Linked DNA regions of Homo sapiens: all the other regions are linked to region 7. The links come from fine-mapping of genetic effects on gene expression. A gene starts in region 7. Each other region holds a variant in brackets. All regions are shown on one strand. Distances are between the middles of the regions. Region 1 overlaps IGFBP7 (insulin like growth factor binding protein 7). Region 2 overlaps IGFBP7-AS1 (IGFBP7 antisense RNA 1). Region 3 overlaps POLR2B (RNA polymerase II subunit B). Region 4 holds the start of NOA1 (nitric oxide associated 1). Region 5 overlaps IGFBP7 (insulin like growth factor binding protein 7). Region 6 overlaps IGFBP7 (insulin like growth factor binding protein 7). Region 7 holds the start of IGFBP7 (insulin like growth factor binding protein 7).

Region 1 (4,065 bases), 66 kb after region 7:
GCATCTCTTCTCTTCTATACAAGACTTGTCCTCTTGGTGTCCCTGTGGGTCACCATTAAGTCGCTTGCTTATTCTTTCTCACCATGTATCTTCATTTACCTTTCTCTAAAACTTCTGTAATTTGCTTTTATCAAGAGATTTTGGTCGCGTGCAGTGGCTCACACCTGTAATCCCAGCACTTTGGGAGACTGAGGTGGGCAGATCACCTGAGGTCAGGGGTTCAAGACCAGCCTGGCCAACATGGTGAAACCCCATCTCTACTAAAAATACAAAAATTAGCCAGGCATGGTGGCGAGCACCTGTAATTCCAGCTACTTGGGAGGCTGAGGCAGGAGGATCGCTTGAACCCACGAGGCAGAGGTTGCAGTGAGCCGAGATCACACCATTGCACCCTGGGCAACAAGTGCAAAACTCCATCTAAAAAAAAAAAAAAGGAGTTTTTCCATTCCCTCTGCATATTCTGGGGGAATTTCCAGACCAGGTAAGTGGTAAAGAACCAATCAGAGCTTAGTAAATAGGTATCCTACTGGGTATCAGCTCTGAAGAAAGTACTGGAAAGAATGTTGAATCCCTACAGATTCTTCCAACACAGGAAGTCACGTGGAGGCCAACCCGCCTCCATGTACTCTAAGAGGTCTGTTTGGTCCCTTGAATATTACACTAATAATTTATTGATGTGACTTTCCTTTGCAAGAGACTGCATCTCAAAACCAAAAGGCCGTTCTGTAGCCTTATTTCTTAGCACTTTCCAGTTTACGTATTGTTTGTTAAACTTTTCATTGTGTTAGTAAACCCAGCATTTGTTCAAGGATATTTGAAATAGTCAAAGGTTTTTGTAAATGTTGTGCAGCAAACTGGTCCTAACAGCCCCTCCTCTGCCCTTCCACTACATCACCCCAGCAGGAGTCAGTGGATATTATAGATTTTTGTGGTATGGAAGTCTTGTAGAATTCTAGAAATAGCCTGGTGGCAGGATTGACAAAATCATTTACATTCTTAGAATAATCCAAATGTTGACTCAGCCTGTTTACCTAAGGTATTCCAAGCATTGGGAGAGAGAAATAGGAACCCATGATATGATTTGTCCTAATATTGAATCCCCTGACGATGGCTGTCATTCAAAGTATTCCTGGGTTCAGGTATTTTTAAAGAATTCATGGCTGGGCACTGTTGCTAACACCCATAATCCCAGTACTTTGGGAGGCTGAAGTAAGAGGATTACTTGAGCCCACGAGTTTGAGACCAGCCTAGTCAACATAGCAAGACTCTGTCTCTACAAAAATAAAAATAAAAAAAGAATTCTTACTTGTCCTAGAGTGTTCTGCTTCTTGGAATAGTAAGATGATTGGGGGGGAACAGATATATTAGATCTGCCCTCTATTTAGTGCTTCAACTTTAGTACAATTAATTTCTAAATTATGCCATAGTTATTGGTGCAAAGATAGACACATAGACCAGTGGAAAAGAACAGAGAGTCCAGAAATAGACGCACACATATACAGTGGGTCTTACAGATTTCCACAAAGGCATTATTATGATTCATTAGGAAAAAGATGGTCTTTTCAACAAATGGTGCTGAAGCAATTGGATGTCCTTTTAGGGGAGGAAAAATGAAACTTGACCTCTGCCTCATAGCACACACAAAAATTAATTCAAGATGGAGCAAAAACTTAAATGTGAAAAGTAAAACCATAAAGCTTGTAGAAGAAAACAGGAGATCTTCATAGCCTTGGGCTAGGCAAAAATTTTCTTAAACAGGACACGAAAAGCACTAACCACAGAAAAGAAAACTTGATAAATTGGACTATACTAAAACTAAGAACATCTGTTTTAAAATCCCATGGGAAAAATCCATAGCATGTCTTCAAGATCTCTGGCAGAAAATCAGGCTGGAACTTGCCCATTAGCACTCCAGAATCTGCCCCCTGCCCAAGACCGATGACCCTGCTACCTGTATTGGCAATAGGGAGATGGACACAGGTTAAAGTAAGTAGGTTTTGGCAGGGCTGAGGCC[C/G]TCAGATCCTCACAATAAAATTGTCTTGCATTCCTTGTGTGGTTTGGATATGAGAGAAGCAGCTTTGTTCCCGAGCTCCCCCTCAAATCTCTGAAAACTGGTATGCTCTTCTCAGAACAATCCTTTGAGATCCCCTGAGCTTTGAAGTCCTCCTGCCAAGTCTGTGTGTGGGAAGGAGAACAGAGCAGCATGAGGGCCATCAGAGAGGTGGGCGAAGGCAGTTCAAAGCCCAGCCAGATCCGGCTCTGTGGTGTCCAAACCCTTGGGGTCCCATAGCCCTAGAGGAAGCCCGGGATAGGGTGAGGCCCAGCCCTTTGCAGGGTTCTGTATTGCTGCATCCAGACTAGGAAATGTCTGAGACAGAGCCAGAAACGTAAATACTGCACCACTGTGCTCACCACATTCATGTTTGCAGCAGAAGAGCCAAGCCCCCTGGCCAGGATATATGCTTCCTATTCAGACCTATGGTTTGGAGGGAAGGAAGCATGAAATGTATTTAGAGCTTTCCAAACTTTTGATTGTTTTGCACATTCCTACAAAAATAAAAATATCCCATGAGATTAAAAAAAATCAGCTTCTAATGCTTTAGATGAGTGGGAAAATCTTGCACACTGGGGTCATTTCCTTTCTGTTTCAAGAAATTAATATTGTGCTGGAAATAGCCTGTTGCAGAAGGGGAGACTTTATGTCCTTTGAATGCTGATTATGCCAGAAAACTTTCCAGTCCTAAAGGGGAGGTTGTCCCTTTCCCAGGACTCTGATGCAAGATGACCCTGCAGTTTGTACTTTGCTAGGATAGGAGACCCAAGTCAGCAGAGATTTAAAATTCAGAAGGGATCATTAATTTATTCATTCAAGAAACCATGCTAAGCATGGAATAAGAGCCAGGTTAGGTTCTGGAGTCTCACACTGCCCCACATGAGGATCCCAGACTGCCAGCTCCATGACCCTCCTCTGCGGACGGTCCCAAGTCTTTCTGAAGGCCCCTGGTGATTGAACCCTGGCATTCAGAATTAGCAGAAGTGACATACTAATTACCAGTAACTAAAAAGTTGGTGTTCACATCTCTATTGCAGATGCCGGGAAGCCAGGCCGTCAGGGGACAGGCGCAGTCAGCAAGCACCCGCTCTCTCGGTATCTGTTGGCTTCCACAGTTTTGTGTTTCAGAGCCAAACCAGAAATCACCCAGGGGGTTACTTGCATCAGCTCTGGAAAATGTGTAAAGGATTGAAGTCCTGAGACTTTCCCATAATGTCTTATTTAGGCATCAGTCTCCCTCAGTTGATTAGAGCAGGAATCAGCAAATTTCTTTATAAAAGGCCAGTGACAGTGACTATTTTAGCCATACAGTCTCAGCCACAACTGCTCTAGCAGCCAGAGACCACAGGAAACAAATAAGTGTGGCTGTGTTCCAACAGAACTTTATTTTATGGACATTTCCTTTACAATTTTCACACGTCATGAAATATCCATCTTTTAATTTTTTTTCAACCATTTGAAACTGCAGGCCGGGCATAGTGGCTCACGCCTGTAATCCCAACACTTTGGGAGGCCAAGGTGGGGGGATCGCTTGAGCTCAGGGGTTCGAGACCAGCCTGGCCAACGTGGCAAAATGCTGTTTCTACTGAAAACACAAAAATTAGCTGGGCATGCACTTGTAGTCCTAGCTACTTGGGAGACTGAGTCATGGGAATTGCTTGAGCTTGAACCCGGGAGGCGGAGGTTGCCGTGAGCCAAGATCATGCCACTGCACTCCAGCCTGAGCAACAGAGTAAGGTTCTGTCTCAAAAAAATAAAATTTTTCTTAATTTAAAAAAACAAAAATCCAAACACCATTCTTAGCTCATAAGCCATGCAAAAACAGATGGCAGGCCAGATTTGGCCCACAGGCCATAGTTAGCTAACCCAGGACCAGAGAGTCATACCACTTTCATAGCAAAAAGGATACACATGGTTTGTGTTGACTCTGAGTAGGGAACTTCTCCAGAGGGTGCCATGATACAGAAGGTGGGGGGTGTGTTCCCTAATTGGGGGAATGGAGAAGCATCATT
Region 2 (4,065 bases), 46 kb before region 7:
CTCTTCTGCACAATGGCTGAGTCTTGAAGTGGGATATGGAAGGGAGTTTCCACTTCCCTAGGACTTCCTGGGACCCCTGAAGGAAGTTAGTCCACAGTCCACAAGAGGCCACTGGAGGGTGGATTTCATGGTTGCCACTCACAGAGGGAGCCGGTGGTGTTTCCCAGTTCCTTGATGCAGGCTTCTAGGCCAGACATAAGAGATTTCACATAGAGCAAACAAACTTCCAGTGCAGCGAATCAGTGGTGCCCTCTATGATGTGCTCAAATGATGCACATGCCCTCACTCTCTGCTGTTTTGAAATTATCCCAGGAGCTCAGAGAGCTGTGGACAGGGACACCTACCTGGCGTCTGCGTGGAATGATGCCAGGATCCATCACATTAGGAAGACATTTCCAAACTCATGTGAGGCCCTTGCAGCTGCTTCAGATCCTCTGCCCACCGCCTGCTCACCTTCAAATTTTCTTTAAGAGCAGCTTCTAAATGCTATTGGCATTTAGAAATCTGCCGTGTTCTCCTATTCTGTAGTTTGTACGTTGGTTTCCATTAACCTCTTTCCAAATGTTATCAAATTCATATCTCCATTTATGATCCATCAGCCTCTTTATCTCTCAGAAAGGCAACAGAGGAAAAAGAAACAAGCCCAAATGGCTTTTTTGGCTGCCCATAGCGTTCTTGGAAATCTGTTAGCGATGCAGCCAGTGCCTCCTCTCCTATTGTTGGTCCCAGCTGGCAGGCATGGGCTGACAGTGCATTCACCAGCATCTGTGTTGTTTTATTCTGCAGAATAAAGCCTGGTTCTTTTCTTCCCTCTACCAAAGTAAAAGAGAAGTCATGGGTAACTTGTACATTATCTGCGTGAGACAAAAATGTGTCGGATGCTTCCTGCTGCAGTGGGACTGGCAGAGAGAGTAGCAAAGGCACGCACCACTTCTAGGGCCCCTGCAGAGGAGCCACAAGCTCCCAGGACTGTGGAGAGGATGGATGGAAGAAGCAGGTGCAAGAGAAGAGGACAGATGGAGAACAGAAAGAAGGTGGAGAAAAGGTTAAAAAAAAAAGAGGATAGTTCTGGCAGCAGGGAGGAGACATGTCTGTTGGATGCCTATGTGGTAGGCATGAAAATGAGCCACCCAGACCATCCTTCAGGAAGCACTTGCTGTGCAGCTGCAGGAGGTGGCCAGAGCAGGCAGCCTCTGACAGCAGCTCAGGGGCTGCCTCTGCAGCTGGAGTTGCCTCACCCTAGAACACCTCCTTCTCAGGGAGCCAGGTCTGGTGACTGAGTGAAGCAAGGCTCTAAGGGCTGGCCATCTCAGCCCCTCATGGGACAATGCAGATGGACAATACTCACTGCAGGGCTCCTCGGGTTGGCCAAGGCTCTCCGGGGCCCACATTACAGCTCAACCTGTCCCTCTGCCCAGTTCTTGCTTCCCCCCGTTTCTAAGCGCAGGAGCTGATCCCTAATAAATGTCTTGCAACCCAAACTCCATCTCAGCATCAGCTTCCAAAAACCTACACTGCAATGGCCTAGATTTTATTGTACCAGATACTTTACATGTTACCCCCTTAATCTGCACTAATATATTTTTTATATATATATATATGTGTGTGCATATATATGTGTGTATATATGTGTGTGTACATATATATAAATTTGTCCCCTTTTGCATCTAAGGAAACCAAAGCTCTAAGAGGGTTTATAACTGGCCCTCGGGTCACATGGCAGTAGAACTGAGGTTAAACTGAGCTGATGCAGCATCAGTGTGTGATA[C/T]GCCCTTTCTACCACATCCTACCACGCTGGGCTTGCACATCAGAAGACCATCCAAATAACTGCTGATGAACCTGGAGGACACCAGAAAATCAGGGAAGGAGTGAGTCCCTTTAAGAAAACAGTGAAGATGGGAGGACACTGCAGTCAGTATCCCTTGGACAGTCCCTTGCACCAAAAATACTCCCCTCACCTGGCCGATTGCTGACTACAATTCCTTGCCTTCCAAAATTGGGGAGAAAAGCTAACATATAAATCCTGAGAAGCGTCTCACATGCACTTGCTGTACTCCTGTGGGTGAGTCACAAGCCCCAGGCATCCCTGTCTGTGCTTCTGTCATCCTCCACCTCACCTCCCTGCTCAGCCTGCCCTAGATCCCTCCTATCACCAAGGGAAGAAATCTGATAAACTAACTCCTTCGGAGTGACAATGTGTGTTTACATTTTGCAAGACAATTCAGGGAGGGGAAAATGTTTCACCCAAGCAGCCGGGCTCTGGGTTGGGAGGTCATCTTGAGGCAGGAGCATCATGACACTAGCTGTCACTTCATAAATTTGTGTTCGCAAGTCCAGCATGCCCGAAGCCATTTATTTCTTCCTAGTTATGTTGCCTGTAATTGGGATAAGATAAGGTAGATAATAGTCACTTACTAATTATCTAGTGGTAAAAATAACTATCCTTTACATAGGTATGGATAACACAGATATTTTCTAAAAGCCAAAATAGAGTTATTCATTAAGCAACATCAGTAAATACTAGACTCTAAAATATAATACACAATTAAGGTAAGTTTTTTAATAAAAATCATTTGAAATTTAATTTTACTAGGCTCTTAAATAAGTCCCTTTAATCTAAGCTTAGCTTCCCCTGGGCTGGATGAGCATGGCCCTGATTCCCTCACCCTGTGACACTGGGACACTGCTTTAGCATGCATCTACATTTCACCACCCTTGATGTTGGCAAGTCTGTGAATCCTCCATCCAATGAAGAGATCCAGAATATGCCGCTTCAAAACGTGCCACTTTGGCATAAGGATTATTTTGAGCTGAAGGCAATTGAGAATCAACAGATGCAGGAAGAGTTCTCTGCCCTCCTCTTGTCTGCCTAAAAGCAGGGTGTAAATTTCCCTTTGTGAAAGTGTCCCACCCTTCACCCCAATACCGGGGAGCAAAAGCAGTCATCACCAGAGACAGAGAGTTGACACCAAGAGGAGTCTGCAAAAACAGACCCCACTAAAATAAGGTTTTATCTTCCATTAGTTCTCCCATATATTTTTCAGTCACTTCCCTACCCTGTCTCATCCTCTGAAGCCTAAACCCCCTTTCTTTTGTTAAAATGCGATATTAGCCCTGGAGCCTAACTAACCACTTCTTTGAGTTTCACTTCTTTTCTGTGAACTCCCATGCACGTAAAATACGAATAAAACTGTATGCTTTTCTTTTCCTGCTGTTAATCTGTCTTTGTTAGTTTAATTTGAAGGCCCCCAGGTACTAAATATAAGAAAGTCAAAGAAACGCTTTTTCGTCTCCCACAACAACTACAAGCACCTTTTTTTCCCAAACCAGAGAGCCTCTTTGTTACTGCTGACAGCCTCCCTCTGTCATGTGTCTCAGGGACATCCTGCCTAATAATGCAGGCTGTCTTTGTTCTCACCTTCAAAGAAAAACACTTTCAGAAAGATCCAGCTACTGAGAGGGAAACCCCATAATCTCCTGGTGTCTTGCTTCTCCAGGAGCAGGAAACTTGAGACGTGGGGTAAGCACCAACCTGGAAGTCAAGAGGTTTGGGTTCTTTCCTGACTCTACTCTGTAACCTTGACATTAACCAGACCAGGGGTCAGTTCCTTTACAGAAGGAAGGAAAGGGAAAGAGAGAGAGGAGGGGAGGAAAATGGGGGAGAGAGGAGGAGGCAAGGGAAGGGGCGGGCAGGGAGAGGAAAGAGAAGAGGGGAGAAGGGGAGGGCAGGGAAGCAGCCAGGAGAGGTGATTCTAGCCCCAGCTCCTCTGCTTTCTCCCAGAGTCACCGCGAGCCAGCCCCTCACCTCTCCGAGTTTCCATTTTCCCATCTATAGACTGAGAGGAGTGGAAGGTGCCTAGATCAGTGCTTCTCAAGGTGTGGTTCCTCCACCAGTAGCATCAGCCACTGTTACCCCAATGCCAAAGGTCAGTCTAGGTCCTGCTGTTCACCACGCAGAATGCCAATCACTGAGACAATGACTATTACCAAAGAAGAAGGCTTTCACTTGGCTCAGCAGCCAAGGAGAACAGGAAACAAAGCCTCAAATCTGTCTCCCTGGCCAAC
Region 3 (4,065 bases), 110 kb after region 7:
AATGTTTATCTTGATCTTTTTCTTGTACCCTCAGCCCCCATATCTCCAAATGCCAATTGGTTGTTTCCACCTGGACATCAATTATTCCATTTAGTCTATTATTTGTTTCATCATGGATCTTATCCCAGAACAAGCAGAACATTAAAAAATAATACAGCTGGGCACAGTGGCTCATGCCTGTAATCCCGGCACTTTGGGAGGCCAAGGCGGGAGGATTGCTTGAGCCCAGCATTTCAAGACCAACCTGGGCAACATAGTGGGACCTCATCTCTATAAATATTTTTAAAATTTTAGGCTGGGCACGGTGGCTCACAGGCCGGGCACAGTGGCTCACATGCCTGTAATCCCAGCACTCTGGGAGGCCAAGGCGGGTGGATCACCAGAGGTTGGGAGTTCGAGATCAGCCTGGCTAACATGGTGAAACCCTGTCTCTACTAAATATACAAAATTAGCTGGGCATGGTGGCACACGCCTGTAATCCCAGCTACTCAGGAGGCTGAGGCAGGAGAATCACTTGAACCCAGGAGGCAGATGTTGCAGTGAGCTGGGATAGAGCCACTCCAGACTTAGTCTCCAAAAAAAAAAAAAAAATTTAAAGAAAAAAAATGTCTACAACATGCACTCCCCAAAAATCTTATCTAAAACTGAACTTATTATGTTCTCTCCTAAATCAGTTACTCGAAGTTCACCGCTCTCCTGGAACCTCAGAATACAAATCATAGTATCTTAATTGACTCATCCTTTTATCTTATCAAACCTATCATCAAATCCAGATCATTTTCCTTTCTCTGTCTCTAATTAATTCATTTTGTTCAGAGTTGCCATGATAGTCTCCCTAATATACTGTTTATGTCTTTGCCCTCTGTCATCCAGGCCGATGCCTCTCGACAAAGAATGCACATCACAATCACCTGGGGACCTCTTTCAAATACTTGTACCTGGGCCCCATTCCACTCCCATTCTCACTATTGAGTCAGCAGATTTGGAAATGGGCCCCTTTTGTACTTGGAAGAGTCTTAGGTTATTGAGGTGAACCTTTAGTTAAGATCCACTAATCCAGATCCACCCTGATCATCTACTTGTCACTCACTATTCAACATACTTCATCCAGCTCAATTAGAGCTATCTTCCAGTGATTCTCCAAATACTCATCCCCACTCTCCTCTAATAAGAATGTCCTTCCAGTTTCTCTCTGCTTATATAAATCCATACCATCTTTCAAAGTGTAAGTCAAGTCCCATCTTCTCTATTAAGTTTCATGAACTGGTCAGGGGCGGTGGCTCATGCCAGCACTTTGGAAGGCCAAGGCAGGCAGGTCACTTGAGCTCAGGAGTTCGAGACCAGCCTAGGCAACATAGTGAAACCCTGTCTCTACAAAAAATACAAAAATTAGCCAGGTGTGGTGGAGCATGCCTATAATCTAACTACTTCGGAGGCTGAAGTACGAGAATCGCTTGGGCCAGGAGGTGGTGGTTGCAGTGAGCCCAGATCGCGCCACTACGCTCCAGCCTAGGCAACAGAATGAGACCCTGTCTCAGAAAAAAAAAAAAAAA[C/AC]TTTGCATGGACCACACCATACTAGTAACCTCATTCTCCTCCAAATTTCTATAAAACTGTTATATGTAATAGGTGTCATTTGGCCTCTGCACTGTGTTACTACCATTTAATGTCTAAAGCTTGTATTCCCAATAAAACCATTCTTTTTTTTCTCTTTTTTTCTTTTTGGAACAGGCTCTGGCTCTGTCACCCACGCTGGTGTGCAGTGGCGCCAATCTGGGCTCACTGCAACCTCAGCACTCAAGCCATCTTCCCACCTCAGCTTCCCGAGTAACCGGGACTACAGGTGCCTGCCACCACATCCAGCTAATTTTTGGGTTTTTGTTGTTGTTGTTTTGCTAGAGAAAGTGTTTTGCCATGTTGCCCAGGCTGGTCTCACATCCCGGGCTCAAGCAATCCACCCACCTCAGCCTCCCAAAGTGCTGGGATTACAGGCATGAGCCACCACACCTGGCCACCTTCTCAATAAGGATTGTGTGTTTTCATGATCTCTTAACAATACCCAGCAATGTTGTGCACATGGGAAGAATGCTTATCTTACAAATAAAATATTATGAAAAACATTCTTGAGGTGACAGGTATGCTAAGTACCCTAATTTGATCATTACACATTGTATACACGTATCAAAATATCACATTGCATCCCACACATGCATAATTATTAAATAAAATTGAAGGCCGGGCACAGTGGCTCACGCCTGTAATCCCAGCACTTTTGGAGGCCGAGGCGGGCGGATCACGAGGTCAGGAGATCGAGACCATCCTGGCTAACACGGTGAAACCCCATCTCTACTAAAAATACAAAAAAAAAATTAGCCGGGCGCGGTGGCGGGCGCCTGTAGTCCCAGCTACTCGGGAGGCTGAGGCAGGAGAATGGCGTGAACCCAGGAGGCGGAGCTTGCACTGAGCCGAGATCATGCCACTGCACTGCAGCCTGGTGACAGGGCAAGACTCCGTCTCAAAAAAAAAAAAAAAAAAAAATATATATATATATATACACACACACACACACATATACATACACACACACACACACACACACACACACACACATGAACTGAAATAGAGGTTTTCCAAGATAGCTGTAAAAATTAAATCAAGCAATCTGAGTAACAGAATTGGCATACAGCAAATATTTAAGAACTGCTAGCTACTACCAGGTTCCATTATTATAAGCAACCTATGCTTATAACTATACCAGTGGTCTGCAGCTTCTAAGCTGGTACCCAATGATTCCTGCCTCCTACTATTGCCCTTGTAATACCCTCTTTAGTGTGAGCTGGACATACTGACTTGCAACCAACAAAAAGAACATGGCAAAAATGACAGGATGTTGCTACCACTTTTAAGTTATAAAAGACTGATTTCCACCTTGCTCGTACTCTCTATGGCTCTTTTTGCTTACTCTCTCTGAAGAAGCAAGCTGCTATGCTGCTGTCAGCTGCTATACGCAGAGGCCCACATGGCAAGGAACAAAGAAAGGCTTCCAGCCAACAGCGAGCAAAGACCTGGGACTCAGTCCAACAGCCAATGAAGAACTAAATCCTGCAGACAACCATGGGAATGACTCTTGAGATTACGGCAGCCCAGGGAAACATCTGATTGCAGCCTTGTGAGAGTTGCTTGGCCAAAAGACCCAGCTAAGCTACACCCAGATTCCTGACTCACAGAAGCCGTGAGATGATAAATGTTGCTAGAGGAGTAATTTGTTACACAGCGATAGGTAAACAATACGATATATAACAACAATATGCTCCAGAAAAGCTTCTATGGACAAAGAAGGCAGTCTAGTAAATTTTAAAACAAAGCACAAAGGAATAAACCCAAATAGCATCATATCCAGTCCATACCTGTCCTCCTCTTGCCAGCATGCTAACCCATATAGTACTGGTGGGTCGGGAAGAATTCTCAAGACATGATCTACACTCTCCTGTGTAGGCATATTTAGAATCCTTTTTGGCAAACACATAAACTGTGTTTGTTGCCATTTTCTCTTGGGCAATCAGAACCTATTTGGACAATAAGAAAGTTACAGCCATAAAATCCAAAACATCACTGAAGAGAAAAGAGAGTAAAATCTGCATCTTAATTTAATCTGACCATATAGGCTCACTGAAATATTTAATTCTTCAACTTTACAAACTCCATTTTGCATAAATGCTTCATAGAAATACATAAACTCCAAAACTGACCAAATTCCCAGTGCATGTTATATACAGCTAAATAAAGCTTTGGTTTATATAAGTTTAGCTGTCATACCCTAAACAAGTCAACTGTCAGTGCCAGGTTATCCTGCAGGAAAATCTTTCTTTCTTTTTTTTTTTTTTTTCATTTCAACTTTAAACTAAATTTTAACTACCATTTTGTAATTTTTTAAAATAATGTTACTATACCTTTTCTGATCCATTAATAATGAAATAGCCACCAGGATCCAAAGGGCATTCATTTAACTCACAAAGATCACGATCTGTCAAGCCATTCAAAAGGCAGTAAGTTGACCGCAACATAATTG
Region 4 (4,065 bases), 130 kb after region 7:
AACTGGGCAGATGGTGGGTAAGAAGGAGACGTGACACTTTAACTTGTTTTTTTTGAGACAAGGTCTCACTTTGTTCTCAGCTCATAGCAGTGTCAACTTCCCAGGCTCAAGCGATCCTCCAGCCTCAGCCCCACAAGTAGCTGGGACTATAGGTGAGCAAGACCACGCCCAGCTAATTTTTCTATTTCTTATAGAGAGGGGTCTCCCATGTTGCCCAGGCTGCTCTCGAACTCCTGAGCTCAAGTAATCCACCCGCCTCAGACTCCCAAAATGCTGGGATAACAGGCGTGAGCCACTGCACCAGCCACCCCACTTTAACATTTTTAAATTTTCTGGCTTGTGAGCTATGAGAATATATTACCCAGCCAAAAATTATGCTTTAAAAATCTTTTTTTTCGAATTTTTCTTCTACTGAGATAGTAGTTAAAAAAGAACAAGGAATATAATGATGCTAATAAATTTCTACAACACAAGATATAAATGAGACAGAAGTTTAAACAGCTTTAAAAGTTTAAGCTTTTGGCTGGGCACATTGGCTCATGCTTGTAATCCCAGCACTTTGGGAGGCCGAGACAGGCAGATGGTTTGACCTCAGGAGTTTGAGACCAGCCTGGGCAACATGGCCAGACCCCATCTCTTAAAAAAAAAAAAAAAAAATTAAGCTTTTGCTTCAATTTTTTCCATCTGATTTATCAGAAGTACCTGAGGGAATAGAGAGAGGAGATGTAGGGGGTGGCCAAGGAATTGAGAGCTATAAGAAAATAAGGTTTGAATTAGCAGATATGGAGAATGGAAAAGGCGGCTACGAAAATACACTAGACTCAACTAAGAATTTTTTTTTTTTTTTTTTGAGACAGTCTAACTCTGTCACTCAGGCTGTGGTGTAGTGGTGCGATCTCAGCTCACTGCAAACTCCGCCTCCTGGGCTCAAGCGATCGTCCGGCCTCAGCCTCCCGAGTAGCTGGGATTACAGGCGCACGCCATCACACTAGGCTAATTTTTGTATTTTTAGTAGATACAGGATTTCCCCATGTTTGTCAGGTTGGTCTCAAGCGATCTGCACATCTCGGCCTCCCAAAGTGCTGACGGGAGCCACCGCGCTCGGCCACTACTAAGAATTCCATATGCGCAAACAAACAGGTATTATACATTGGCCCAGTGCAGCAGAATACATATCATCTGAGAACTGTGACATTGTGAGAAGAGGAAGTTAAAAGTCATCCTTTAAGACAATTTACTTTGACTTACAAACAGTATGAAGAAATGTCAGACTAAACCGAGTCCCCCCCGCCACCCCCACCCCCCGATATTCTCTGTCCCGGAATATTTCCAGGACCTTCCACACTGCCTGACACAGGCTGACACTCAACAATTGAGCTATTCGTTAAGTCGACTGTGGCTTTAAGGAAAATTTTTAAAGGGTGCCCTTTGCTTCAAATTCAAAACGTAATTTATCTTACGATTCTGCACGCTACTTCACCACAGGAAACGAGGATCAGATCTAACGGAACGAGAAAGTGCAGAGAGCAGCAGTGAACGTAACCTGGAACATTAACACTATGTTCCCTGCACCCTCCGCCTCTCCCTACCCCAGTTTCGTTCCCGGCCTGGTAAGTGTGGGAACAAGGCTGGGGACTGTGCAGCCGGCGCATGGGAAGGCCCCAAATCCTCAATCCAATCAGTTCCCAACGCTTTCCTGCTTAAATGGACCGCCACGGCGTGTGTTTTGAGCGTTCACCTACCCTCATCCGCGTCGTACATATTGCCAAACGGTTCTCGAGCTCCTAACTCTTGAAATCAAAAGACAAAAACCGCCCAGAAGCCAGCAGCGCCAGGAGCTAAAGACGAAGTAACTTCCGTCTCCGACGTTCCCAGAATACCACGCGTCTCACACCAAAGGCCGCCCACAGGGACGCCAAAGTTAGGATCTGCGCCTGCGCAAATTGTAGGTCAAGCTTGGGCCGGGGTTAGGGTTGCACACGCGTAAATTGTGGGCCGCCGCTGCCGGGCTGATTGAGAGGACAGCTCCCGCAATCTGCGGTCGTATCCGTTCCGTCAATGTTTTATTTCTGCTTGTTTTTCAATGTTGTTGCACAAATAACGACACCTGAAAACAAAACCAGGTATACTTATTATTAAAAAGTGTTCGTCCTGTGAATCCGCAACATTGGGATGCTCAATTTATTTGCCTTTATAA[G/A]GACCAAAACACGAAGCTATTTTTTATTTTTATTTATTTATTATTTTTTGAAATGGAGTCTCGCTCTGTCGCCCAGGCTGGAGTGCAGTGGAGCGATCTCGGCTCACTGCAACCTCCGTCTCCCGGGTTCAAGCGATTCTCCTGCCTCGGCCTCCCAAATAGCTGGGATTACAGGCAAGGGTCACCACGCCCGGGTAATTTTTGTATTTTTAGTAGAGACGGGGTTTCACCACGTTGGCCAGGCTGGTCTCGAACTGCTGACCTCAGGTGATCCACCCGCCTCGGCCTCCCAAAGTGCTGGGATTACAGGCGTGAGCCACGCGCCCGGCCGGAAGCTCCTTTCTGTTTTTGTTTTGTTTTGTTTTTTTGAGACAGGCTCGCTCTGTCGCCCAGGCTGGAGTGCAGTGGCGCGATCTCGGCTCACTGCAACCTCCGCCTCCCGCGTTCAAGCCATTCTCCTGCCTCAGCCTCCCGAGTAGCTGGGACTACAGGCGCCCGCCACCACGCCTGGCTAATTTTTTGTATTTTTAGCAGAGATGGGGGTTTCACCGTGTAAGCCAGGATGGTCTCGATCTCCTGACCTCATGATCCGCCCGCCTCGGCCTCCCAAATTGCTGGGATTACAGGCGTGAGCCACCGCGCCCGACCCCGGAAGCTCCTTTTTAAGTGTGATTTATTAAGGGCGGCTTGTGCTAGCAGTGAGGCGTTAAGCCTGAAAGTGAAAAAACCCAAAACACTCACTGCTCTTTTCTGCCCACCTAGCTCAATCCTCCAGTGCCTTTGCCATAGCTTTAAGTAGGTTCTCAGTCTCAGAGCTTAAATCGCGAGAACTGACGGGATTAGACGCAAAACCAACCAGGACAGCTCCCAAGTACCCACGCGCTTTCGTCTCGGGTCAAATGCGCGCCTCGGACCCTAGTGCGCGTGCGCGCTGGTGGCTCCGCCCCTTTGGAGCTACTTCCTCATGCTGCCCGCTCGCCTACCGTTCAGGCTGCTGAGCCTTTTCCTTCGTGGATCCGCTCCCACGGCAGCGCGCCATGGCCTCCGGGAGCCGCTCCTGGAGAGGAGGTGCGCTGCCGCCTCCTCCTTCCAGCACTCATCGAGTCTGGGACGCGAGCTTCCTTATGACCCCGTGGACACGGAGGGCTTTGGAGAAGGTGGTGACATGCAGGAGCGTTTTCTGTTCCCGGAGTACATCCTGGATCCGGAGCCGCAACCCACCCGCGAAAAGCAGCTGCAGGAGCTCCAGCAACAGCAGGAGGAGGAGGAGCGACAGAGGCAGCAGCGGCGGGAGGAGCGGCGACAGCAAAACCTACGGGCCAGGTCCCGGGAGCACCCGGTCGTGGGGCACCCGGACCCGGCATTGCCGCCCAGCGGCGTGAACTGCTCGGGCTGTGGGGCAGAGCTGCACTGCCAGGACGCCGGAGTGCCCGGCTACCTGCCCCGAGAGAAGTTCCTCCGCACGGCGGAGGCAGACGGCGGGCTGGCACGGACCGTGTGCCAGCGCTGCTGGCTGCTGTCGCACCACCGGCGCGCTCTACGCCTGCAGGTGAGCCGCGAGCAGTACCTGGAGCTGGTGAGCGCCGCGTTGCGGCGGCCCGGCCCCTCCCTGGTGCTCTACATGGTGGACCTGCTGGACCTGCCCGACGCCCTGCTGCCCGACTTGCCCGCGCTGGTGGGCCCCAAGCAGCTGATCGTGCTGGGAAACAAAGTGGACCTCCTGCCCCAGGATGCTCCTGGCTACCGGCAGAGGCTGCGGGAGCGACTGTGGGAGGACTGTGCCCGCGCCGGGCTCCTGCTGGCCCCTGGCCACCAAGGGCCACAGCGCCCCGTCAAGGACGAGCCACAGGACGGGGAGAATCCGAATC
Region 5 (4,065 bases), 23 kb after region 7:
TTTAAGTCATACATGTTATGGAGATTAATGTTTTGGAGAGGGTGGGGTTCAAATCCCCACTCCCCCACTTACTAAATGTGTGATTATTAAATGACAAGTTGCCTCTCTTTTTTTTTTTTTTTATTTTTTTGAGACAGAGTCTCACTCTGTTGCTCAGGCTGGAATGCAGTGGTGTGATCTCCACTCGCTGCCACCTCTGCCTCCCAGGTTTGAGCGATTCTCCTGCTTCAGCCTCCCAAGTAGCTAGGATTACAGGTGCCCAACACCACACCCAGCTAATTTTTGTATTTTTTTGGTAGAGATGGGGTTTCAGCACGTTGGCCAGGCTGGTCTCGAACTCCTGACCTCCAGATGATCCGCCTGCCTTGACCTCCCAAAATGCTGGGATTACAGACGTGAGCCACCGTGCCCAGCCAGCAAGTTGCTCCTCTTAACCTCAGTTTTGTCATCTTTAAAGTGGGGACAATATTGCTTACCCAAAGGGTTGGTGAGAGTATTAACTTCATATGAGGTTCTAAGCATAGTGCTTGCCACACAATAGGGTCTCAATCTGGCCGTTGCTTTTATCATTAGTAGTAGTGGCTAATGCTTCAGAAACAGCCCTCAAATGTCATACTATGGTACTTTTACCTTCATTCTTCCCTCTTTTTCTGGAGGGATAACTAGAGATGGGATGAAGGGTAGAAGCAGAAACTGAGAGTGGTAGGAATGATTGGATGGTATTATATGGAGAAAATGAGGGCTGTTCTTGCCCAAACTGGTCGGAACCTCAATATTTTTATATACTTACAATTTATAGCCTACCTTATTTTAACATTATATTTGTGGCAGTTTACATCACCATGCTTTTCAGATACAGCAATAGTGCTGTAAAAAGCACTAAACTGCCTGGGCATGGTGGCTCACACCTCTAATCCCGATACTTTGGGAGGCTGAGGCAGGAAGATCACTTGAGACTAGGAGTTCAAGACCAGTCTGGGCAACATAGTGAGACCCTGTCTCCACAAAACAAAACAAAACAAAAGATTAGCCAGGTGTGGTAGTGCATATCTGTAGTCCCAGCTACTCAGGAGGCTGAGGTAGGAGGATCACTTGAACCTAGGAATTTGAGGCTGCAGTGAGCCGTGATTGTGCCACTGCACTCCAGCCTGGGTGACAAAGCAAAGCCCTGTATCAAAATAAACATAAAGTACTAAACTTAGAAGAAAAGAGTCTGAATCCTCCTGCCTCAGCCTCCCAAAATGTTGGGATTACAGGCATAAGCCACCACACCTGGCCAAGCATCTGAATCCTGACTATACATTGACTAACAGTGATCATTGGCACATTGCTTAATCTCTTTGTCCCTCTGTTGTCTCACCTGTGAAATGGAGCAAGCAGGACCTGTATTAAAGGATTAGGGTTAGGGTTATGGAAATAAACGAAGTCACAGATTTGAAAGCCTTTGTAACTGTTAGGCCTTTATGAATCCAAGATTGTATTCCCTCTGACTTTACCAACTATTGTAGTAACAACTCTCAAATATGCCCAGTCAGTTAACTGATATAACCTTGCGTATAGCTGTGTCAGTTATTTACTTTTTTCCTATATACCTCTGGTCCACTCCTCCCCTTCAAATCACTATCAGCAAGTAGTGCCCAGGGACTCCTGTGTTATAACATTAGCCAGAACCAAACAGTTAGTAAGGAATCTGCTACAACAAATTTATACAGAGCAAAATATAAAGTATTTTAAAATTGGCATCCTTTTGAGATAGTCTGTTCCTCTCCTGCCCTTCATTAGTTGGGTACTCAAGGGTTGGCAGTGTTTTCCCATCTAGAAGCTCATGCTGCATATTGACCTGCAAAGGTATTAGTCCAGGTACCAATGGCAACTTTTATGTTATCCATCAATCACTTTAATGAGTACAAGAAAGCATCCTATCACCCTGCCAAAAGACAGAGGAATTAAGAATGACTCATTTATCACTTAAATGTGTGAGTGTTTTCTATGTGTCAGGTGCCATCCTGGTGCTGTGGGGCACAGAACACAGACTCCAGTTTCCAGGGG[G/T]TTACCGTTAAATGGGGCTGAAGCAGCAACAGTGTGTCGGTCTCCTGTATTCAATCTCCTCATAATAACTGAGCCACTAGATCAGGAGCAGTGGCTCACGCCTGTGGTCCCAGCACTTTGGGAGGCCGAGACAGGTGGATCACCTGAGGTCAGGAGTTCGAGACCAGCTTGGCCAACATGGTGAAACCCAGTCTCTCCTAAAAATACAAAAATTAGCTGAGCGTGGTGGTATGTGCCTGTAATCCCAGCTGCTCAGAAGGCTGAGGCAGGAGAATCGCTTGAACTTGGGAGGCGGAGGTTGCAGTGAGCTGAGATCGCGCCACTACACTCCAGCCTGGGCAACAAGAGCGAAACTCGGAATCAAAAATAAAAATAAAAAATAAGATGGTAAAATTTGTATGTGTATTTTACTACAATTTTTTAAAATTAGAAAACAAAAACGTAAATCCTCTAGATACCAAAACCCAAGCCCCATGGAAAACATTTACCACAAAAAGGTGACAAGCTATCCCCACAAATGCCAAAATATAAGTGGGTTGGAACAAGCCACCTATGCCACCAAGCCTGCAGGCTGTCAGCAGCTAGGTGGAAAGACACAGAGGGCAGTAATGAGGTGATGACAGATCCAATAATAGGTAAATCTCAACATAGCCAACAGGTTTTCACTGGAAAGTCCATTAGTGGGTGAGTGCAAGGGACCCAAAGGGTGGAAGGGGCTTGAGTAGCCTGGGTCCCGTGAACTCTCAAAACCCCCAGCCGGGGCTCCTGATATGGTTTGGCTGTGTTCCCACCCAAATCTCACATTGAATTGTAACTCCATAATCTCCAAGTGTCATGGGAGAGACCTGGTGGAAGGTCATTGAATCATGGAGGCAGGTTTTTCCCATGCTGTTCTCATGACAGTGAGTAAGTCTCACGAGATCTGATGGTTTTATAAAGGGCAGTTCCCCTCTGCATGCTCTCTTGCCTGACACCATGTAAGATGTACCTTTGCTCCTCCTTTGCCTTCCACCATGATTGTGAGGCCTCCCAAGCCATGTGAAACTGTGAGTCCATTAAACCTCTTTACTTTATAAATTACCCAGTCTCAGGTATGTCTTCACAGCAGTGTGAAAATGGACTAATACAGCTCCCTTCCAGGACAGGGCCCTTCACCAAAGAAAAACTACTAGGAATAGAATCAAAATTGAGCAGGACAGAAACAATAGAGATGAATGAAACAAAAGACCAAATAAAAGTGAAGGAGGGAAACAAACCCAGAAAATCACAGAAAGCAAGTTACTGTTTTTAACACTAAATGAAAACAACACAAAATGGAGTTCTGAGGAGTTGCAAAAAGGTATTTTGGACAATGTCTCCTTGTAAGGCTGTGGAAAACCAATTTTACATTTTAAAAAAGCACAGAGAAAGATTAAGGCCAAACCCCATACTAGAAAGAAATTTTATATAAGAGAAGAGTGAGAGAGAGAAAGGGAATAACATCCCTACCTGCAATGAAAGCACGTCTGCAAACAGGTGAAAACTACATACAACTGACTATCTGAATAACATGAGCTAAAAGACATTTTTTAAATAATACAAATAAAGAGTAACAAGCCAAAATTAGAATAACTCGAAAATGTGGTGAAGATCTCAGTTGTTATTTCAGAAATGAAACCAAAAGAAACACAATAGCGAATAAGAACAATAGAGAATCCCTTAAAAGACTAGGAGGTTAAAAGGAGGAAAATTATTAAATTAAAAAGAAAGGAGGAATGATCAAAAGCAGCAACCACTGAAGATATGCAGAGCAGATCTAGCATACGGATAACAGGAGTCACTGAAGAAGGAAACCAAAGCAAGAAAGCAAGCCAACACTAAAAATTATAACTCCAAAAAACTTCACTGAAATACAAGAAAAATGTAGAACTACATTTTGGAAGACCAGACAGTATACCTGAGAATATGGATCTAGAATGACAAATACCTATTGATATTCTAGTGAAAACAATACTGCACTTTAAAGAAAAAGAAAAA
Region 6 (4,065 bases), 59 kb after region 7:
GGCTGCAGTGAGCCGAGATTGTACCACTGCACTCCAGCCTGGGCGACAGAGTAAGACTTCATTTCAAAAAAAAAAAAAAAGATAGAAAAGAAAGCATCATCAAATAAGAGATTTGTTTGCAAGCAACCAACACATTGCAAGAAGCAACTTTCTGTGCATGTTCTGTGGTCAATTCAAAATTACAGTGATAATTGTGAGATATCACAAGATTGACAGTCATCGTAGTGAGATATTTGAGTACTATGTCCACTTGAGAAAAACAGACTTCATGCTCCCTACGAAGATTCTCAGCATCAAAGATTGGACCCAAAACGAGGTGTCTTATTAATCCAGAGGTAACTAGCAATCAGCCAGGAACTCAACTCACAAGACCTGGGCACGCGGTCACCAGGGCAGCATTGTATTGAATGGTCTGCTCTTAGATGGACTGGCCCTGCAAATACGTGCCTGGAAGCTAAGCAAGGCCGTGCTATTCACTTATCTGCTTTACCTGGGGTGGGGTGGGGACGGGCCAGGTGGTCAGCAGTGAGCTGATGGAACTCCCTCTGGAGAAACTAGTGAGAGGGAGTGCCAAATCTGTCTTCCTTCCACCCAAAGGACCCCACATAGCCTTCCCAGGGCTAAAATGTCAGCTAGACAGTGCTTGCCTTGGCACTTCTGGTCTCCCCACTGGGGTTCAGTGCCTCCTCATGGCCCAGGTGATACCTGAAATTCAGCAAATTTAAACCCAAGTCCACCCTTTCCCCTTCTTCAATCCAGCACCTTCCTCAGACTGACACCCCTGCTTCTGTTCATGGTGCGGCAGCCTCCTGGAACCTTTGAGGCTCACAGCCTTTAAATCATGCCTCTCTTTCCTACATCCAGTCAGTTACTGGGTAGTGTTAGTTCTTCCTGAATAATCCCCCAAGTCTTCCCCTTTTCTCTGTCTTCTCATTGCTGCGACCTTGAGTTAGAGCCTTAATCCCCGCCATGTCCCATCCTGATGCGGAGACCTCCAAAATCATCTTGGGAAATGCCACTTGAATCATGACACTCCCACTTTCAGAGACACATTGGAGGGTGAGGCCCCACCTCATCTGCTTTCTGCTGTGCCCTACACCACACACGAATCCTCTTCCCGAGCTGGCCCGCATGCTCACTATTCAAGGCAGGCCAGCGTTTTCCTGCCTCTCCTCAGGCAGGTCCCTGTCTTTCACCTTCCTTGATGAAAGTCTAATTTCTGAAATGAAAAGCAACAGCTCATACTTACTGAATGTTTACCCCATGCCAGGTACTGTGCTAATGGCTGTATCTTGTTTGATCCTTTTGATGGTCTAATGACTGGGATACTATCATTCCATTTCACAGATGAATAAAGCAGGGGAAGTGAAATAACTTGTGCAATGTTGCATAACTCAGGAGTGGTAGAGCAGAATTCCTGATTCCAAGTCCACGCTCCAAAGTCACTATAGTCTATTACCTCCCAGCATTTTGTTCTTACTCTTAATGCGCTAAGCCTCCCCAACACCACCCCAACAGATTATATTTAGAGAAGAGGAAGCAGTTCTTACACACTTTTGCCCTAAACAGTGTTTGGCAGGGTCCCATTATTATAAACTATTGGTTCTTCATTCACACTAAAGTGGAAATGACTAACAGTAGCTTCCATAACTAGATGAATTTGCCTTAAACTAAAAGCCTGAGATTAAATCTGGCCTATGCTGCTTAAGCTGTTGTACTTTCTTCTCCTCCCCTGCTGTCCTCAGCCAGTACCCCTGAGACCGTGTGCTAGATTCCCATACCAGGGTTCAGCTGCTACATCATCCCGCCTCTGGAAGTTCCCTAAATGACTTGCCTTGGCAGATGGCTCTGCTCTTTAATTAGCCATACAGTTACTGCTTCCCCTTATTTAATATCAGGAAGCTTCCACTTGTTTCATC[C/A]CCTTCCCCATCTTGGCCATAGTGCCTTCCTACTATTCTTTTCCCGTTTTGTACTTTTGTGTGCTCCTGTTCCCTTTAATGTGTTATCAGAATCTCATCTCAATCTAGGGATTTTTGCCAAGTTGTCTGAACTCTCTATCTCCATATGTGGTATCTGAGGTCCTTCTTAAACCCTGATTTTCCCCTTATTTGGTATTAATGCACACACTATTTTCAGGACCCAGCATCAAGAGTCAAGGTGAGTGTTGTTTGCAAATCTATCATAACTCGGAGAAGTCCCCATACTCAAATGTCTTAGCCATGTTAGCATGTACTCAGCAAGAGGCCATGAACAGTGGCTCATGCCTGTAACCCCAGCACTTTGAGAGGCCGAGGAGGGAGGATCACTTGAAGCCAAGGGTTCGAGACCAGCCTGGGCAACAAAGCAAGACCCTGTCTCTACAAAAAAAAAAAAAAAATTCTTTTTTAATTAGCCGGGCATGGTTGCACTTGCCTGTAGTCCTAGCTCCTTGGGAGGCTGAGGCAGAAGGACCCATGAGACTAGGAGTTTGGAGTCTGCAGTGAGCTATGATCGTAGCACCATTGCACTCCTGCCTGAGTGACAGAGCAAGACTCTGTCTATAAAAACTTTTGAAAAGCCAGGTGCAGTGGCTTATGCCTTTAATCCTAGCTCTTTGGGAGGCTGAGGCAGGTGGATCACCTGAGGTCAGGAGTTCGAGACCAGCCTGGCCAACATGGTGAAACCCCATCTCTACTAAAAATACAAAAATCAGCCGGGCATGGTGATGGCTGCCTGTAATCCCAGCTACTCAGGAGGATGAGGCAGGAGAATCGCTTGAACCCACAGGGCAGAGGTTGCAGTGAGCCGAGATTGCACAACTTCACTCCTGCCTGAGCGAAAGAGCGAAACTCTGTCTCAAAAAAAAAAAAAAAAACTTAAATAAAAATAAAATAAATGTTCAGTGAGAACCATAATGTGAATAGTATAACCCAGCATGATTTTGGTGTGAGGATAATTGATAATCATTTTCTTCCAGCAGACCTACCCATCTCGGTGGGATTTGCTTCAAGTGATGTATATTCAAATTAATTTGCATCTCCTGGTCATATACTAATTGGTTGGTGAGTGGTTAGTAGCCAAGAAACACTGCTTATGGCAAGAGAAAGTCAAGTGAAAGATTAAAGAAAATCATGATTAATAATCTGCCAGCTGATAAATAAGATAGTTATAACACCACTTTGGTGAGGTGTACGCTTTTGGCCATGTGTACACTGGTGCATTTTCAAGACAGTGGCTATCTTTTCACTTCTGTTTGGCTAATCATGTTATGTTGTTCTGAAGTTACTGCTGCCCTATACCCACTTCACACAGCCTGAGCTCTGTCTCCTTCCAATGAACATGAAGATCTTTTGATTCCGTAGTTCCTGGTTCTGTTCTGATTCCGACAGGATGCTGGCATCCTCAATTAGGCCAGCTAAGGAAAGCATTAGAAAACAGTGATGCACTACACTCTGTGGAACTTACCGAAACCAACAGGATTTTAGAGAAGAAATAAGGGGGAGCCTGAAGCTGTCAGGCCGCAAAAAATGTCAAAGAGAAATGAAACTTCAGTCTTAGAATGTCAAATAAAGTGTGATAAGAAATAAGAGGAGGGAAGATATTCCAAGTAGGTAAGGGCATCAGCATAAGCAAAGGTGCTGGAAGGGGTAATGAACATGTAATGGTGGGTGAGCAGGACTGCTGGGAGCAGACAGTGAGTTTGGGTAGAAATGACATAGAAGAGTGAATTGGTAAAAATGGAAGAGATGATGGGCAAATGAGAAAGCAACGAAGCAAAAAATATATAGTACAATATGATATTGGAGGACAGAAATGATTATTGGGGGTAATTTGACTTTTGACCATTTCCCAGGCTTAATTCAAGTATATTTAGCTTTCAAACATGACTTCTCCTAATATCTTCTACACAGCTCTTTCAGATGAAAAAAAAATTGGCTAACTGGGTAAAGGGTGATACCTTTATAAGCTCTATTTTTTTAATCCCTGAGGAAGTGAACCATGTTATGAGTCACATACATCGTGTTTAGGTAGGTGAGGAAATGCATTGAACTGATTTGCAGAGAATGAGAGCTCCAGACCCAGACA
Region 7 (4,065 bases):
TCTTGACCAGTGAATTAATAAAAAGGAAATCAGGGCCGGGCATAGTGGCTCACACCTGTAATCCCAACACTTTCGGAGGCCGAGGCAGGTGGATCACTTGAGGTCAGGAGTTTGAGACCAGCCTGGGCAACATGGTGAAACCCTGTCTCTAGTAAAAATACAAAAATTAGCCGGGCATGTTGGTGCATGCCTGTAATACCAGCTACTCGGGAGGCTGAGGCAGAAGGATTGTTTGAAGCTGGGAGGCAGAGGTTGCAGTGAGCCAAAATCTCACCACTGCACTCCAGACTAGGCGACACAGGGAGACTTCATCTCAAAAAAATAAAAAAAAGAAAAAGAAAGAAAAGAAAAGAAAGAAAGAAAGAAATTAAATACAATAGGAAATAGAGTGCACTCTGCATTTGTTTCCTTTTCAAGAAAACAAATGGGTCATGTAAACTGCATCTCTTAGGATGGAACAAAGACAAAAATATTTAGGGAAACTCTGCTGTAAAGATTTTTCATTGTTTTTTAAACAACTGTCAGGTCAACATATGACCTTTGAGGGGAAAAAAAATGCTCCACTTGTCTATAATACACTAAGGAGAGGCCAAAAAGCAGTGCTAGGTTTTTCTGGATTGGAGGATGTTTCCCCACTCTCCACCCCCCGATTTTGTGGTCATTTAATTTTCAAAAAATTTGCAATAATTATCCTTGTAAGAGTCTGTTGAGAATGAGTTCTTTACACTGCTAATGGGATTATGAACTGAACTGCTGGCTTTCAGTCAGCAACCCTGTAAATCCCTGGATTTATGCTAAGAAAAAAGAACACAAAAGAACCACAATGTGACATGCAGAATAATGCACGCTGCAATGTTACACATTCAGTTAAAAAGTGAAAGCAACTTCCATGTCTGCATTGGAGAGGCCAGTGTTCCTGGGAAGAGAGGCTTTCAAGTTGAGTTTGCAGAGCACTTCGCAGAAAGACTGAGGAAGAGTCCACCGTTTATATCAAAAACCTCCTGGAATGCTGGTGAAGACTGGGGGCGCTTTAGGTGCCTCCGTGGCAGCTCCAACGAGGAAGGAGCTGGGACCCCTGCTCCTCTCAGCTGCGCTCTGTTCTCCCGAGAGGCTTGCTGGAGGGCGAGCAGTTCAGCAAGAACTCAAAACAAGGGCACAGCTCTCACACGGATTCCAGTACTCACTGAAAACGGCTCAGCACAAAAAAAGCACAGAGTCTTGTTGAATGCCACTGGGAGACAAAGCGGGGAGGGAGGTGCAGGCAGTTAAGAGGTTCCAGAAAGGGAAGTGGTTGGCAACGGTTTGTCCTTTTAGTGCTTGACACCCAAGACCACAGCAGGCCTGTGGCCAGCGGGGACACAGTCCACAAGTGGGGGTTTTTAACAGCTTGTTCTTAAGAGAGCTTCCCAAACCACAGAGTAATGAGCACTCAGGTGTCTCAGGCCCACGGAGGATTTAATAGATGAAACCCTGGATCGTCTCGAAGCCGTGGTTGTTAAGAAGTTTAAATATATTGACCGGAAACGGGGAGAAACCAGAGGGTGGAAGAGCCGCTCGCACTGCGGTGCGATCCCTGAGGGCTCGGGGCAGGGGACTGGGGACCGAGCAGGAGCTGGCGGGGTGAGCTCTGCGAAGCGGGCGTGAGACCGAGCGCCCATGGGCCGGTCACGCCGGGTGCCCGCTCACCCCCCGACGCCAGCAGGAGCGCGCGCGCAGGCCCCGCGGGGCCGGGAGGGCGGCACGGGCGGGGCCCCCGTGCTCTCACCGCCCCGGGGTGTGGTTCCCGCGGACAGGCCGGGCGGGGCGGCGGGTTTAAGGCGCCGGCCGGCCCGACACGGCTCACTCGCGCCCTTGCCGCTGCCACCGCACCCCGCCATGGAGCGGCCGTCGCTGCGCGCCCTGCTCCTCGGCGCCGCTGGGCTGCTGCTCCTGCTCCTGCCCCTCTCCTCTTCCTCCTCTTCGGACACCTGCGGCCCCTGCGAGCCGGCCTCCTGCCCGCCCCTGCCCCCGCTGGGCTGCCTGCTGGGCGAGACCCGCGACGCGTGCGGCTGCTGCCCTATGTGCGCCCGCGGCGAGGGCGAGCCGTGCGGGGGTGGCGGCGCCGGCAGGGGGTACTGCGCGCCGGGCATGGAGTGCGTGAAGAGCCGCAAGAGGCGGAAGGGTAAAGCCGGGGCAGCAGCCGGCGGTCCGGGTGTAAGCGGCGTGTGCGTGTGCAAGAGCCGCTACCCGGTGTGCGGCAGCGACGGCACCACCTACCCGAGCGGCTGCCAGCTGCGCGCCGCCAGCCAGAGGGCCGAGAGCCGCGGGGAGAAGGCCATCACCCAGGTCAGCAAGGGCACCTGCGAGCAAGGTGGGCACGAGCGCTTCCCTCTCCAACCCTGCGCCGCTCGGCCCAGCGAAGGGCACATCCGACGGGGCGTCCGCGGCGGCCTCGCCCCGCGCTGCTCACTGCGATTCCCCCGCGGGCATCCCAGGAGCCAGATGGGAGGGAAAGAGTTGGCAGCCGCGGAATGCCAGGAGCGGTGGGCGACGCCCCCCCTTCTCCTTTTTGGTGGTTTTATTTTGAGAGTTTGCTGCGTGCGTCCAGAAAGTGAGGGCCGGGTGTATATGTAGAAAAGATTTTCCGAGACCTCAGACTTCCCCATGCCCAAAGCGCACCCAACTCGTGCTAACATCTGTCCATTTCTCATCATTCTTGGCTTGGGGATGTAGAGAGAGGTGAAGTCAAGAGATGGGGGAAAGGAGTTTGACAATTAAATATAAAGTAAGGACTTCCAGACAGACTTTTTTTTTTAAAAGATAGGATCTTGCTCTGTCGCCCAGGGTGGAGGGCAGTGGCACGATCTTGGCCCACTGCAACCTCTGCCTCAAGCGATCCTCCTGCCTCAGCCTCCCAAGTAGCTGGGACTATAAGCCTGTGCCACCACGCCTGGCCAATTTTTGGTTTTTTGTTTTGTTTTGTTTTGTTTTATAGCGACGGAGTTTCACTATGTTGCCTAGGCTGGTCTCGAACTCCTGAGCTCAAGTAATCCCGGCCTGCTGGGATTACAGGCATAAACCACCGTGCACAGCCCTGATTTCTTAGTATTGAAGAAAATAGTCCACTTTCTAAAAATTATAGGTTCTCAAACAGTAATCTAACTAGCTAATTATTTGTGGGCAAAAATAAAATACAAACTCTTTGAAGACTGTTTTTGTGATGCACTTTGTTGTCAACCTTCTGACCATTTTGTTTTTCCTTCCTATTTCTTTGATTTGTATTGTTTTGCATAATTTGTCCCCAGGATACACTGTTCAGCAGAAATGTCTTTGAGATTATGTTTGATTGTTTATTTTATTCCAAACAAGTCCAAGCTTGCTGTAAATGAAATAAGGAAATAGGCCGGGTGGGTTGGCTCACGTCTGTAATCCCAGCACTTTGGGAGGCCAAGATGGGCAGATCACGAGGTCAGGAGTTCGAGATCAGCCTGACCAACACGGTGAAACCCCATCTCTAATAAAAAATATATATATATACATTAGCTGGGCATGGTGGTGCATGCCTGTAATCACAGCTACTCAGGAGGCTGAGGCAGGAGAATCGCTTGAATCTGGGAGGCGGAGGTTGCAGTGAGCCGAGATCACATGACAGCACTCCAGCCTGGGTGACAGACAGAGACCCCATCTCAAAAAAAAAAGAAAGAAAGAAGAAAATAAAGTCTGGACTTGCAAATACACGCACATACACACACACATAGAAATTTTAACTCTAATGCCTGAAATAACATTTTCCATTGGCAGTATTTTCAAGGGAAAGTCAGACATTCAATGTTGGCAGCTCCTGATCTTAGCCAAGGTAGAAAAGGGAGAGGAGGCAGTTCTGAGGTTACAGAAGCTGTTGCTTCTTTAACACAGTTCAGACTTTCTCCAGAATTTCCAAATTCTTTCTTTAGAGCTTTTCCCAGAAGTCCACAAACTAATAGGTTGTATGTCATCAATTTCAGAGTTCACTATTGAAAGCCTTAAATTGTGTAACTCACTAGTAACTATTTATAGTATCATCACCTTAAACTTAGAAAATTGCAA

The links.
Region 1: its variant is fine-mapped to the expression of IGFBP7 in whole blood (TOPMed, PIP 0.99).
Region 2: its variant is fine-mapped to the expression of IGFBP7 in whole blood (TOPMed, PIP above 0.99).
Region 3: its variant is fine-mapped to the expression of IGFBP7 in whole blood (INTERVAL, PIP 0.95).
Region 4: its variant is fine-mapped to the expression of IGFBP7 in whole blood (TOPMed, PIP above 0.99).
Region 5: its variant is fine-mapped to the expression of IGFBP7 in caudate (GTEx, PIP above 0.99).
Region 6: its variant is fine-mapped to the expression of IGFBP7 in whole blood (TOPMed, PIP above 0.99). The same link has a PIP of 0.9 or more in blood mononuclear cells, monocytes and monocytes after Pam3CSK4.

What each region holds. Positions count from the first base shown.
Region 1 is chr4:57,042,103-57,046,167 of GRCh38, reverse strand. The region is part of intron 1 of IGFBP7 (insulin like growth factor binding protein 7); the gene reads left to right. Among named protein-coding and RNA genes, the nearest start is that of POLR2B, 65 kb to the right of the region's middle. The variant C/G (reference allele first, on the strand shown) is at 2,015.
Region 2 is chr4:57,154,482-57,158,546 of GRCh38, reverse strand. All of the region lies in intron 1 of IGFBP7-AS1 (IGFBP7 antisense RNA 1), which reads right to left. Among named protein-coding and RNA genes, the nearest start is that of IGFBP7, 46 kb to the right of the region's middle. RefSeq lists enhancers at 738-1,246, 1,247-1,756. The variant C/T (reference allele first, on the strand shown) is at 1,769.
Region 3 is chr4:56,994,748-56,998,812 of GRCh38, reverse strand. POLR2B (RNA polymerase II subunit B) reads right to left here. Exons shown (of 25, transcript NM_000938.3): 5 at 3,947-4,065; 6 at 3,404-3,562. Among named protein-coding and RNA genes, the nearest start is that of POLR2B, 18 kb to the right of the region's middle. The variant C/AC (reference allele first, on the strand shown) is at 1,554.
Region 4 is chr4:56,976,682-56,980,746 of GRCh38, reverse strand. NOA1 (nitric oxide associated 1) reads left to right here and starts at 3,141. Exons shown (of 7, transcript NM_032313.4): 1 at 3,141-4,065. The coding sequence starts at 3,162. It overlaps POLR2B (RNA polymerase II subunit B), which reads right to left and starts at 1,851. Exons shown (of 25, transcript NM_000938.3): 1 at 1,743-1,851. The coding sequence starts at 1,761. RefSeq lists enhancers at 1,478-1,577, 3,399-3,468, 3,849-3,908 and a silencer at 3,569-3,648. The variant G/A (reference allele first, on the strand shown) is at 2,198.
Region 5 is chr4:57,085,097-57,089,161 of GRCh38, reverse strand. The region is part of intron 1 of IGFBP7 (insulin like growth factor binding protein 7); the gene reads left to right. Among named protein-coding and RNA genes, the nearest start is that of IGFBP7-AS1, 23 kb to the left of the region's middle. The variant G/T (reference allele first, on the strand shown) is at 2,050.
Region 6 is chr4:57,049,035-57,053,099 of GRCh38, reverse strand. All of the region lies in intron 1 of IGFBP7 (insulin like growth factor binding protein 7), which reads left to right. Among named protein-coding and RNA genes, the nearest start is that of IGFBP7-AS1, 59 kb to the left of the region's middle. The variant C/A (reference allele first, on the strand shown) is at 1,920.
Region 7 is chr4:57,108,162-57,112,226 of GRCh38, reverse strand. It overlaps IGFBP7 (insulin like growth factor binding protein 7), which reads left to right and starts at 1,842. Exons shown (of 5, transcript NM_001553.3): 1 at 1,842-2,350. The coding sequence starts at 1,876. It overlaps IGFBP7-AS1 (IGFBP7 antisense RNA 1), which reads right to left and starts at 2,465. Exons shown (of 5, transcript NR_034081.1): 1 at 2,257-2,465. RefSeq lists a silencer at 1,704-1,773.